Homo sapiens: one gene and its partners. The protein of the gene in region 3 purifies or fractionates together with the protein of the main gene of each other region. This does not show direct contact. Each region holds a gene or a part of one and is shown on either strand. Other genes may lie near its edges. The genes, in order: TF, SERPINB5 and CCDC82.

Region 1 (3,658 bases), on a different chromosome or scaffold from region 3:
AAAAATAACAGGTGTGATTTATAATAGCAAAAAGAAAATTAAACTAAATGCTCAATGACAGAGAAATAGCTAAATAAGTGGAAGCACATCCATGCTATGGAATAGATATCAGTCTTAAAATATCATTTTTTTCTTTAAAACGTAAGTATGGCTATATTTATTTCTCTTAATTCATGCAAGATAGTAATTACACATCAGCAAATATTATCCTCAATAATGATTTGATTCATAAGCATTTGAAATGTATGTAATTTCACATCAATAGCCTTGCATTTTTTTAATACTGTAAGTTAAAAAGCACCCCCCAACAGCCACTTTATATATTTTCCATAACTCCCTCTACACATCCAAACTTTAAACATAAACTGAATATATAGGTCATGTTTAGAAACTTGAGGTTTTAGAAATCTGCTTCCTCACTATGATTCAGAAAACTCCTTATACTGACAATACAGTCACAGGTTAGGTAAAGGTAGTTGTAGGAGGGGAAAAGGAAAAAGACAGACACAAGTTTGCTCTCCTACTATTTTACTAATCCTGTCTGTTGAAAATGGTGATGTCTTAAGAAGTAAAAATCTAGGTTGAATATGAAGAATGGAGTTTGCCTCACAGTTTGAAACATGCATTTCAAATAATTTCCTATTTGATTTGAGCTCACTGTAGCAAACTGATGCCAAAAGAGAAAAATCATTTCTTCCACACATTCGCTCAGAGTCTGCCTGGTAATGTGTATTAAATTCTTTGTGTTTTAGCTTGAAGGCACCTGTCACCAGACCAGTTTCAGGATTCATGGGTCAGGGCTCAAACCAATTTTTAATAGATTTTCAAACTTTTTCAGACACGCCCAAATAGCAGCTTCAGAAAGTACTTTACGTATGGTAGTCCCCTCTTATCCTCAAGGGATATGTTCCAAGACCCCCAGTCTTGGAACCTGAAACCCTATACAATGTTTATTTCCTATACATACAAGCCTATGATAAAGTTTATAAATTAGGCACAGTAAGAGATTAACAACAACAATAATAAAACAATTATAACATACTATAATAAAAGTTATGTTAATGTGCTCTCTCTCTCTCTCAAAATATCTTAACATTTTTGGACCACGGTTGACTGTAGGTATAACCCAAGAAAGCGAAACCTCACATAAAGGGGGACTACTGCACCTCATCTTCTGTTTCACAACTGTTAGAGAGCTACTCTCAAGTTCCTGTAAGTCCTTTCTTTCAAGTTAGTTCTGTTAGTTCCTTTTGATTTGGCACAACAAATCCAATGACATAAGAACAATTAACTGTTTGCAAATGCACAAACGTCATCTATTACTGGGAGATTCTTCAGAGTTGGCTCTACTTTCCCAAGGGAAACATAGTCTCCTGCCTGTAGTTTTACAAGGTCCTTTTTATGATCGATCATCTGTAAACAACCATCAAACTCTTCAGCATCTCTAGGACATAATCACTTCTGTCCATTTCCATCTTCAAATAAATCAGCTTTTGTTTCTGCTTCATTTCTGTAGCATCCCATTGTCACATTTTAGCCACCGATAAGAATTCTACCTCTGGGATGTGGTTTTTCAGTATTAAAGTATCCACCTTCCTCCCAGTTCTTTAATTTAATTTCACAGCAAACTAATGGGACTCTCACTTCTGCCAGTCTTGTAATCCACACATCTGTAATTGTTCCAGCCCCTGTAGGTTCAGTGAGTCTGTATTCATGAACTTGCTGCGTGTTGCAGAAAGTGGAGCACTTTCATACAATAAAAGCTGAATATTTCCACCTAGCTAGCTTCACAGTTTCCAGAAAACAAAGCTGTCACACAATCCAGTACTATGCTCTTTTGAAATGTGTTCCATTTTATAATTATAAGCCAGAATAAACAGATTGTGTTGAAGACTACTGATTTCATACACTTAATTCATGACATTTTGGTAGATCTGATCCATGATTTCCAGAACAGCTGCCATCAGTGTTGGTCTCAACCCAGAAGTACACCCTTTGCTTCTGGTTTTTATTTTTTTATTTTTTATTTTTTTGAGATGGTGTCTCACTATGTTTCCCAGGCTGGACTCAAACTCCTGGGCTCAAGCAATCCTCCTACCTTAGCCTCCTGAGTAGCTGGTACTACAGCTGCATGCCACAGTGGGCAGCCCATTTTTTACTTTTAAAGACTGATCCACTGAAGTCTGGGGTGAAGAGGAGCCAAGCAGGCATCCATGAGAAAAACAAAGAAGCTCAAAGCTTAATTCTAGAACATGGGCCACAGGTAAATATCCAATGTAGTCATCTTCCTCCTCCAGTCTGGGAATCCTTTCTGCCATCCCAGTAATACCAGTAATGATGTTTCTATGCGAGATGATGACTCCCTTTGGAAGTCCTGTGTGTCTACTCATGAACATGATTACTGCAATAACCGAGGGCACTGGTCACTTTGGGATCTGTTTTCCACACTCACCTTCACTTTCTACTGCAGCCATGATGTCCATGATAACAACCTTGGGAAATTGGGACAGGTCAGTGGCTTCCCATTGACAGTGATGATGTGTCACAGGTGTGGGACCAAATAAACTATGTCTTTCAACTTTGTTTCCAATAATTCTTTACTAGCAATGAGATTAGTTACTTTTGTTTCATTAATCCATGGGCCCTGGACCTCCTAAAGTAGCATATAATTTTATGAACTAAATGTTATGCATGAAACATACCTATCCAGCAATCATCCACTTGGACGTGGTCTCACAGAACATGGCAATGTTGGTCTTTGGTTTCTGCCCCAACATCTGTAAGCTATTTCCAACATTAAAGGCTCAAACGATGACATCTTCATAGGAGAGCAAATTATGATGTCCAAGAAGAACCTTTTAAAATATGTTTACATTTGGTTGTACTTAATCTTCATTTAAGATTTCACATGTTCCCAAGAGTCTTTTGCTCTTCCTTTTTTTTACAGACGTAAAAAACTTTATCTATTGTATCACATCCAGAGTATAATATTGAAGCCCAGCCACTCAAACTGCTAACAGATTTGTATAGACTCAGGTTTTGAATTTGTAGGCTTTGCTTTAACTTAGTTTGGTTTTTCTTGTCTTGACTCAGACAAAAATTAAAATGGAATATATGTTAAAATAGCATAAAGTGATATCTATAAATTGTATGAAATATAAAATAATGAGCTTGATGGTCCCTTTTTGCTTCATGGTAGATAGTTCTGAAGATACATGGTTATTCATAAGTGCTCAAAAAGTAGAATTAACATATTTCAGCAAAAATCTGTTGACAATGGCAGGAAGTACCTTTATAATATGCATCTTTGTTTCAATATATTTGCTGATTTATTATAAAGGATCCAACTCAAGAATAGCCAAATGGAAGAGACACAGAGGGCAAGAAATGTGGGGAGGAGGGGGAGTGGAGCTTGGCACTTCATGTTCTCTCTAGGCAAACCATACTCCCCCATCTCGATGTGTGCACTAACACAGAAGCTCCAGATTAGGTTTTACAAGAATGATTTATGATATGGGAAAAGCTTACTAGATACTGTGAGTGAGTAAAAGGTAGCAAGCAACCTACATGAAATGATCCCAATAAGGGAATTTTCTCTGAATTACATGATTATAAGTACTTTTTATTTCTTCTTTATATCATTCAGGATTTTAAAAAT
Region 2 (3,658 bases), on a different chromosome or scaffold from region 3:
TAGGCAGGAGGAGTCTGTATGCCCAAGGACGTTGGTCATTATCACGTGTCCACTTCAGTACAGCACTACTCAGAGGCAATGCTTTTTGGGTAACGGATTTTTCTCTTAACAGGTTCTTCATTTTGAAAATGTCAAAGATGTACCCTTTGGATTTCAAACAGTAACATCGGATGTAAACAAACTTAGTTCCTTTTACTCACTGAAACTAATCAAGCGGCTCTACGTAGACAAATCTCTGAATCTTTCTACAGTAAGTTGTTTAAAGCAAGTAGCAAGACTTAACTTTTTACAAGGAGTGGCATTTTCATGCTGTTAGACCTACAACTTTTTTTCAGTGAAATTCCTTTCTAGGATGTTCACTTGTGATTTGAGGCTTTAAATAAATAAATCCTAGTGGAGAGGTTGAGTATAGTGGGAATCAATTGCAGTCACATCTTCTAACTCAAAATACAGAGAAGCTTATGGGCTTTCCTTTTCTCTCTCAAATAAATCTTACCCTTTCTTTTACCTTCCTCTGAGAGAATGGAGAACAGAGTAATTAACTCTCTAATAAATGTAGCTCCATAGACAATGAGCTGTCTTACAGAGTGTAAGACAGCTAATGATTTAAACTTCTTTCTCCTTAAAGAGCAGGGCATATGGCCTGGGACAATGTTTTAAGCTCTCCACCTCATTTTTTATGCACACATTCTTCTGATGTTTCTCAAAATCAGTAAGAAAAATAATAACTATGAATTCACAATTTTCATCAGTCACAAATTAGTTTTGTTGGCTGGGCTGGTCAGATGGGGATCTCCACAGGCAGCTCTGGTTATATAAGTTTAGCCATTGCTCTAAGGAATCATACAAACACCACTACGGTACCCATTGTTGTAATATTTAAAAATCTGTATTTGAAACACACAGACAATATTCTAGACTACATGAAGTTTCCCTCTGTACTTCAGTAACACAGAGTTGATTTAGTTCCTGTTTGGATGGTCAGAATTTCAAGGTTTCCAAATCGAAAAGCTAGACTACCAGCTTTTAAATATTTTACCATGATTTTGCAACTTTCTGCAGTAGGTATTTTTGTGGTTAAGATCTTTTGAGGACATGGGTTACTAGATATTGTGAGTATATTTTTTGTTGCTTAAAGATACATACACACAACCATTTTTCTTCCAACAATCATCTGAAGAATTTAAAAAAAAAAACTGAGATGTGAGTTGAAGCCTGAGCATACAACATTTCTAGAAGCTCCCTAAATGATCATTAAAGAGACAATTAACACATTTTTATTGCTGGCAGTGAGGACAATGGAGGCCCTCCTTCATCTGGCTGAGGCTTTCTAATGTTTTCAGGTGAGATTGGTTCTGTCAGTCAATGGTGACAGTGAGTCCCAAGGTTGATTTGCAATTAACTGAAGCTAAGTTAATTGGCTAAGGCTGAAGCTGCTCTGAAGAAATTCAAGAAGCCCTGTGCTTGGAAGTGAACTGACATGACACTGAATCAAGTTATATTTAGTTTCACTGAACTTCCATGCAACATCTGGAATGATCTTAACCAGACTAGGAGTTGTAAAGTTTTGTTTTGTTTTTTTCCTTGGAGATGGAGTCTTTCTCTGTTGCCCAGGCTGGGGTGCAGCGGCATGATCTCGGCTCATTACAAAAGATTTTTTAAAAGACTGCTTTCCATTGCTCCTGCTAGGTGCACAGCATCTGCAAATTTACTAGTTAAAGGTCCAAACAAGTGTGCTCTGTGGAGGATCTCTTGCATAAGAACTATCTGGGTGTTAAAAGGGCAAGTTCTTCAGGCCCTTTTAACACCCAGGTAGTTCTGATTGAACCCAGGTAGTTCTGATTAAACCCAGGTAGTTCTGATTGTCAAGGTGGGAATGGGGTTTAGGGTTGCACATTTTAAATAAGCATTAGAATAAGAACTCCTGTTATGTTCTCTCCTGCATTGTGTTTCCAACCTTAATTTGCAGATGGCACACCTGGAAATTTTGTTAAAATGCATTCTGATTCAGTATGTCTGGGGTGGGGTCTGAGATTCTTTATTTCTAACAAGGTCTCAGGTGATGCTGTACACCACCTTGGACCACAGTTTGAGTAGCAAGGGTCTACAGGATATTTAGTTCAGCAAAGACAAGAGTTTTCTGCTCATAATTCTGTTTTCTATACATTTCCTATATTCTAATATATATGTATCTGTAGACATACAAAATTTTCATGTTTCTGAAATTACAACCCATAAGAGAATTGGGCATATTTAACATAGTGTTTTCCCCAAAGCTGATATTAAATTGATAGATGCATTTAATAATTGAAATTGTCTTATAATTGAAAAAAATGAAACATTCAATACAAAGAAATTCACTGACTTCTACATGAGGTTTCAATTCATATAGTGTTACCAATTTTGAAAGTGTACATATAGCAGTTGATATTTAATAATCCTTTTGTTAGAAGAGAATAACAATGCAATAGCTTGACTACAGACTCTGATTTTATGAACTGCATGTTTTTCAGGAGTTCATCAGCTCTACGAAGAGACCGTATGCAAAGGAATTGGAAACTGTTGACTTCAAAGATAAATTGGAAGAAACGAAAGGTCAGATCAACAACTCAATTAAGGATCTCACAGATGGCAAGTACCCTTTAATTGTTCTGCTATCAATCACCAAGTAAACAGGGCCTTCCATCTCATAAATGTTTGCTCCAAGGATAAAAAAAACATCTGGAGGATTCTCTGGATATTTTTACTACACAAGCTAAATTCTTTCCCTTCAAGCCTGTAAACAACTTGGATTTCTGGGCAATTCTTGTATCATCTCATCACTTGGTAGAAACTGTTGATGCTTCAGTGTTAGTTTACTTTGTCTTGCTCTCTGACGAGCTGTCACAGGCCCTAGTGGAATCCTAGCTGCGCCTCTAACAAAGTATGACTTTGGGCCAATCATGAGGCCATTTTTCAGTCTGGAAATAGAGGGACTGGATTATAACTTCATGATCCCCGAGGCCCCTTTCAGCTGACAAATTTTACAAATTTGTTAAGGAAAAAGGGACATAGGCAACATATGTAAAAGAAAAACCGGCTGGACGCGGTGGCTCACGCCTGTAATCCCAGCACTTTGGGAGGCCAAGGCGGGCGGATCACGAGGTCAGGAGATCGAGACCATCCTGGCTAACACGGTGAAACCCTGTCTCTACTAAAAATACAAAAAATTAGCCGGGCGTGGTGGCGGGCGCCTGTAGTCCCAGCTACTCGGGAGGCTGAGACAGGAGAATGGCGTGAACCCGGGAGGCGGAGCTTGCAGTGAGCAGAGATCGCGCCACTGCACTCCAGCCTGGGCGACAGAGTGAGACTCTGTCTTAAAAAAAGAAAACCAAACCAAACAAAACCGTAGTGTCAGCTTGTCCTCGGTGCCGCAGCTCCCCATGCTGGTCGTTCCTCTGATAGCCCCGGGGTCCAAGAAGCTCCTAGGTTCTTTCTCCGGCTCAGTGCTTCCCCCAGGCGTCTCCCTCGTCGGACTCCTCGTCCCTCCCTTAAAATTGCCGGTGAGTCGTCTTCCTTGCTGGAAAAGAATTAGGGTTATGATGATTTTGAGGGCAAATCAGTGACTTTGTCCCCCTCCCCAGTGGATATATTTATAATTGCATCTGGAGGGACCCGT
Region 3 (3,478 bases):
GATCAGCAAAAGGAAACAAATGATTAAAAGATAGTGAAATTTAAGAGAATCTCTTTCTTCTGTCGTTTGTATTTTCTCTTCTTCCGCTCATTCCTTTCATGCTTATCATTGTCCTTCTGAATAGATGCCCTGATGTTCTAAGGATTCACTCAGCCCATCAGATAAATTTTAATAAGCATTAACACTGTCCTTTATTGAAGGACCTCTGTCCTTTCGCTTTTATGTATGTATTGCTTACATATATATTAAGTCCCCTGATTTTTTTTTTTTTTTTTGACAGAGTATAGGACTCACCTCTGCTTGTCTGCTTCCTATTCTTTAGAACAGTTCTTGTGACCTGAGAGTGAAGAAGCACCTGGTGCCAGTCTGAGGAAAGGATCTCGGCTGCCAGTTCTAATACACCCACATCCTCTTCTTGAGGACATGGGACTGAGCAGTGAGCACTGTAACTGAAGATCGAGGGGAATGCAGAGGTTTCAGACCACAGCACTGATTTTGATTCCCCCATATCCTATTGATCACTAAATTTGATAACAGGAGTAAAGTGGGGGTTTTGAAGAGTGCACTGGATTCCCGAAGATCTGCTGGCAGCTTACAAGCTCTGGTCTGCTCACAGAGCTTTTAGAATTGTTTATGGTATATGGAAAGAATGCTAATACGACTGCAGTCTTCTAAAACAAGTCTAGTTACATGAATGTATAAGAGAGAACAAATAGTAGATTTTCAGGCAACTCTTATCAACATTTAATCTTTTAAAGAAAAGAAAAAAGCCTAACTTGAGATCCATTGCCTGGACTATATCATAGGGAAATTTGTAAAAGAGGAATATAAAAAATAAGGCAAGAGAGCTTAGGCAGATGGAAAGAAAACAAAACAGAAACTTTTTTAGCACATGTCATATTTAGTGGAGGTCTCCCAGTCTAGATAATGACATCATCACTGGTTTCCCTTTGACAATTTTTCTCCCACCACAAACCACCACCCAGTGATCTTGCCTGCCCCCCACATCTTGATCCTTAAGTCTTTCTCTCATTTTATTCTTTTCAGCTTTTTGTCTTTTACTTTGCTTCTACTTCTCCTACTCCAAATGCTTCTCCCTGCTTATCCGTACTTTTTCATTTGCTTTAGGAGAGAGCACTTATTCAATAACTTCCCGTCTTCATTTTCCTAGACAACATTAAATTCTTAAGTGCTTTTATTGATGCCTTTAAGTGTTGCCAACCCTCTAGTGGAACTGCAAAACCTATTGGGATAGCACAGTTATAAAGAATTAGATACTAGGTATAGAAAAATCACTGTGCATATACTGTATATGTTATATAATAGTATCATATATGGGGAAGAACTTTAAACTTCTTGAAGAAAAAAGCATTTCCAAATCATGTATCCTAGAAAAAGCTTAACAAGGTTTAGGACACCAGAAGGGACCTGGAATTTTAAAGACGTTATTCTTTATGCATAACACTTGGCATTCTTTTCTTAGGAAAAGAAAGGAGCTTAGGCTTTCTTTTCAAGAAAGCCAAGTGTCATGTTATACATAAAGAATAACATTTAGCATTAGGCATTGAAGGTATTTCAAGATTGTGCATGTCTAGGACAGTATACACATTTTTTTCCCCATGAAAATACCAAAGACCTTCATTTTTTTGAGATTTCTCCACTTAAAAAATTTGTTCCTAGGTTTTCTCAAAAGATTTCCTAGAAACCACAGAGGTTTATAGCCAATATAAACCCATTTGCAGCTTTTTGTGCTGTAATGAAATTTCAAAATTTGTCACGTGCTCTGACATTTCCCATCCTCACTCTGTCTGTCCCTCTCACTGTGTGCCTTTGAGTGATAGCACTGCATGTACTTTGTGATGTGTGCTGCCTTTAGCTACAGTCTGGTAGTCACAGTTACTCTAACCCTTTAGAATGCCTGGGGCTCAGTGTTACTTGAATGCCGTCTCCATGGCACTTTCCGCTCATATTTCCCATTTATGTCAACCCCTTTTGTTGCCTTACACGTACTATTTGTTCCTGTCTTTCTGCCTCCAGCTTGTATTCCACACCTTACTTTTTCCCTTACCTGCTTCTTCAGCCATTTTACTTTAATTATCTCAGGATGTCTCAGCATGTCTTCCCAAAGACATGCCAACTAGACTGACTTCATTCTTTTTGTTCTTCCTTCTAAAGGTTGAACTAGGGTGATCCGTTTTTAATGTAATGATACTAAAGGGGTGTAGGAGCAACTTGAGTATAAGAAAAGAATAGATAATAGGAAAATTATAATAAAACCAAAATATTTAATAAACATAATAATGCATGTCTTATTCTAAAGAAGAGTTCAATAACATACTCTAATATGACACTGGCAAAATTCTAACGAATATTTGTTCATTAAGAAGAAAGTGTATATGATGATGGGACTTCCTGGGAAGTTGAAGATAGTATTGTTGGGATTGGCTGGTGGATGCATAAACACCAGGTAGTAAAGAAAGCATGTCAATAGAAGTATCAGATGCCCATTCATACTGTAAATACTGTGTGTAAAACTGTTACAAGTGACAGTTGTATGTAAATTTTAAATGCACTGATAAATATTGTCATATACATAATAATTTAAAATTATAATTAGATATCCCTTGCCTTCCTTAAACGCTTCTCTTCTTTTTCCCCTCCTTTTCAACTTTTTCCCTTGCCCCTTTTTTCCCCACCCCTTAAACTGATGTTTCTCAAAGCATGGCCCTAAACTACCTATATCAGAATCACCTAGAAGTTTTTGAAAAGTGTATAATCCCCTAGCCTCATCCCAGATTTATTGAATGACAATCCTTGTGGATGTTAAACATCCAATATTTTTAGCATTGATGATTCTTAAATAGATAAAAGTTTGAGGATCACTGCTAAAAAGTACCCGTTAACACTGAATTCTGTCCTCATCCTCTCAAAGTTGCCTTGGCGAATCAATTCCCTTCTGCAGTTGTAGCTACTACTTCTGAGTAGAAGATTCCAAACTTCTCTTATATTCTGACCTCTTTCCCACACTTCATTTCCACAATTCCAACTGTTTTCATCAGTAGGTCCATCAGGTGTTGTAAGAGAGTAGTCTTCACTATTAAAATAAGTAGTCTTCACTATTAAAACCCTCCAAATGTTTAGTAAAGAATTATGAGAGCAGTATCTTTAGGTAGAGAGGATGGCAGAGTAATACTAACTGCAATGTCTGTGAGTTTCACTTTCCAAGTTTTTTTTTTCTTGCCAAAGCTGCATCCTAGCCACACCATTTAAATCTCAGAAACAGCATACTCTAAACTGGTTAAAAGTATAAGCTTAAGTATTTGCTTTGCCACTTACTAGCAGTAGAATTTGGGAGCAAGCTATTTTATTTCTCTTAGCCTAAGTTTTCTCATCTGTAAAGTAGGAACAAAAACAGTAATAATAATTAGGGTTTTGATTGTGGAGATTAGATATGTAATACGTTTTAAGCATTTAGTAT

What was found.
Region 1: the proteins of CCDC82 (region 3) and TF purify together in Homo sapiens (affinity purification with mass spectrometry; 2 studies listed by BioGRID and IntAct, with this or other methods). This does not show direct contact.
Region 2: the proteins of CCDC82 (region 3) and SERPINB5 purify together in Homo sapiens (affinity purification with mass spectrometry; 2 studies listed by BioGRID and IntAct, with this or other methods). This does not show direct contact.

What each region holds. Positions count from the first base shown.
Region 1 is NC_000003.12:133,759,869-133,763,526, reverse strand, and holds part of TF (serotransferrin isoform 1 precursor), read right to left. Parts: intron 1-3,658. UniProt on the Homo sapiens protein: Transferrins are iron binding transport proteins which can bind two Fe(3+) ions in association with the binding of an anion, usually bicarbonate.
Region 2 is NC_000018.10:63,486,834-63,490,491, forward strand, and holds part of SERPINB5 (serpin B5), read left to right. Parts: intron 1-112; coding exon 113-250; intron 251-2,513; coding exon 2,514-2,631; intron 2,632-3,658. UniProt on the Homo sapiens protein: Tumor suppressor. It blocks the growth, invasion, and metastatic properties of mammary tumors.
Region 3 is NC_000011.10:96,355,464-96,358,941, reverse strand, and holds part of CCDC82 (coiled-coil domain-containing protein 82), read left to right. Parts: intron 1-322; coding exon of another isoform or gene 323-370; exon of another isoform or gene 371-3,478.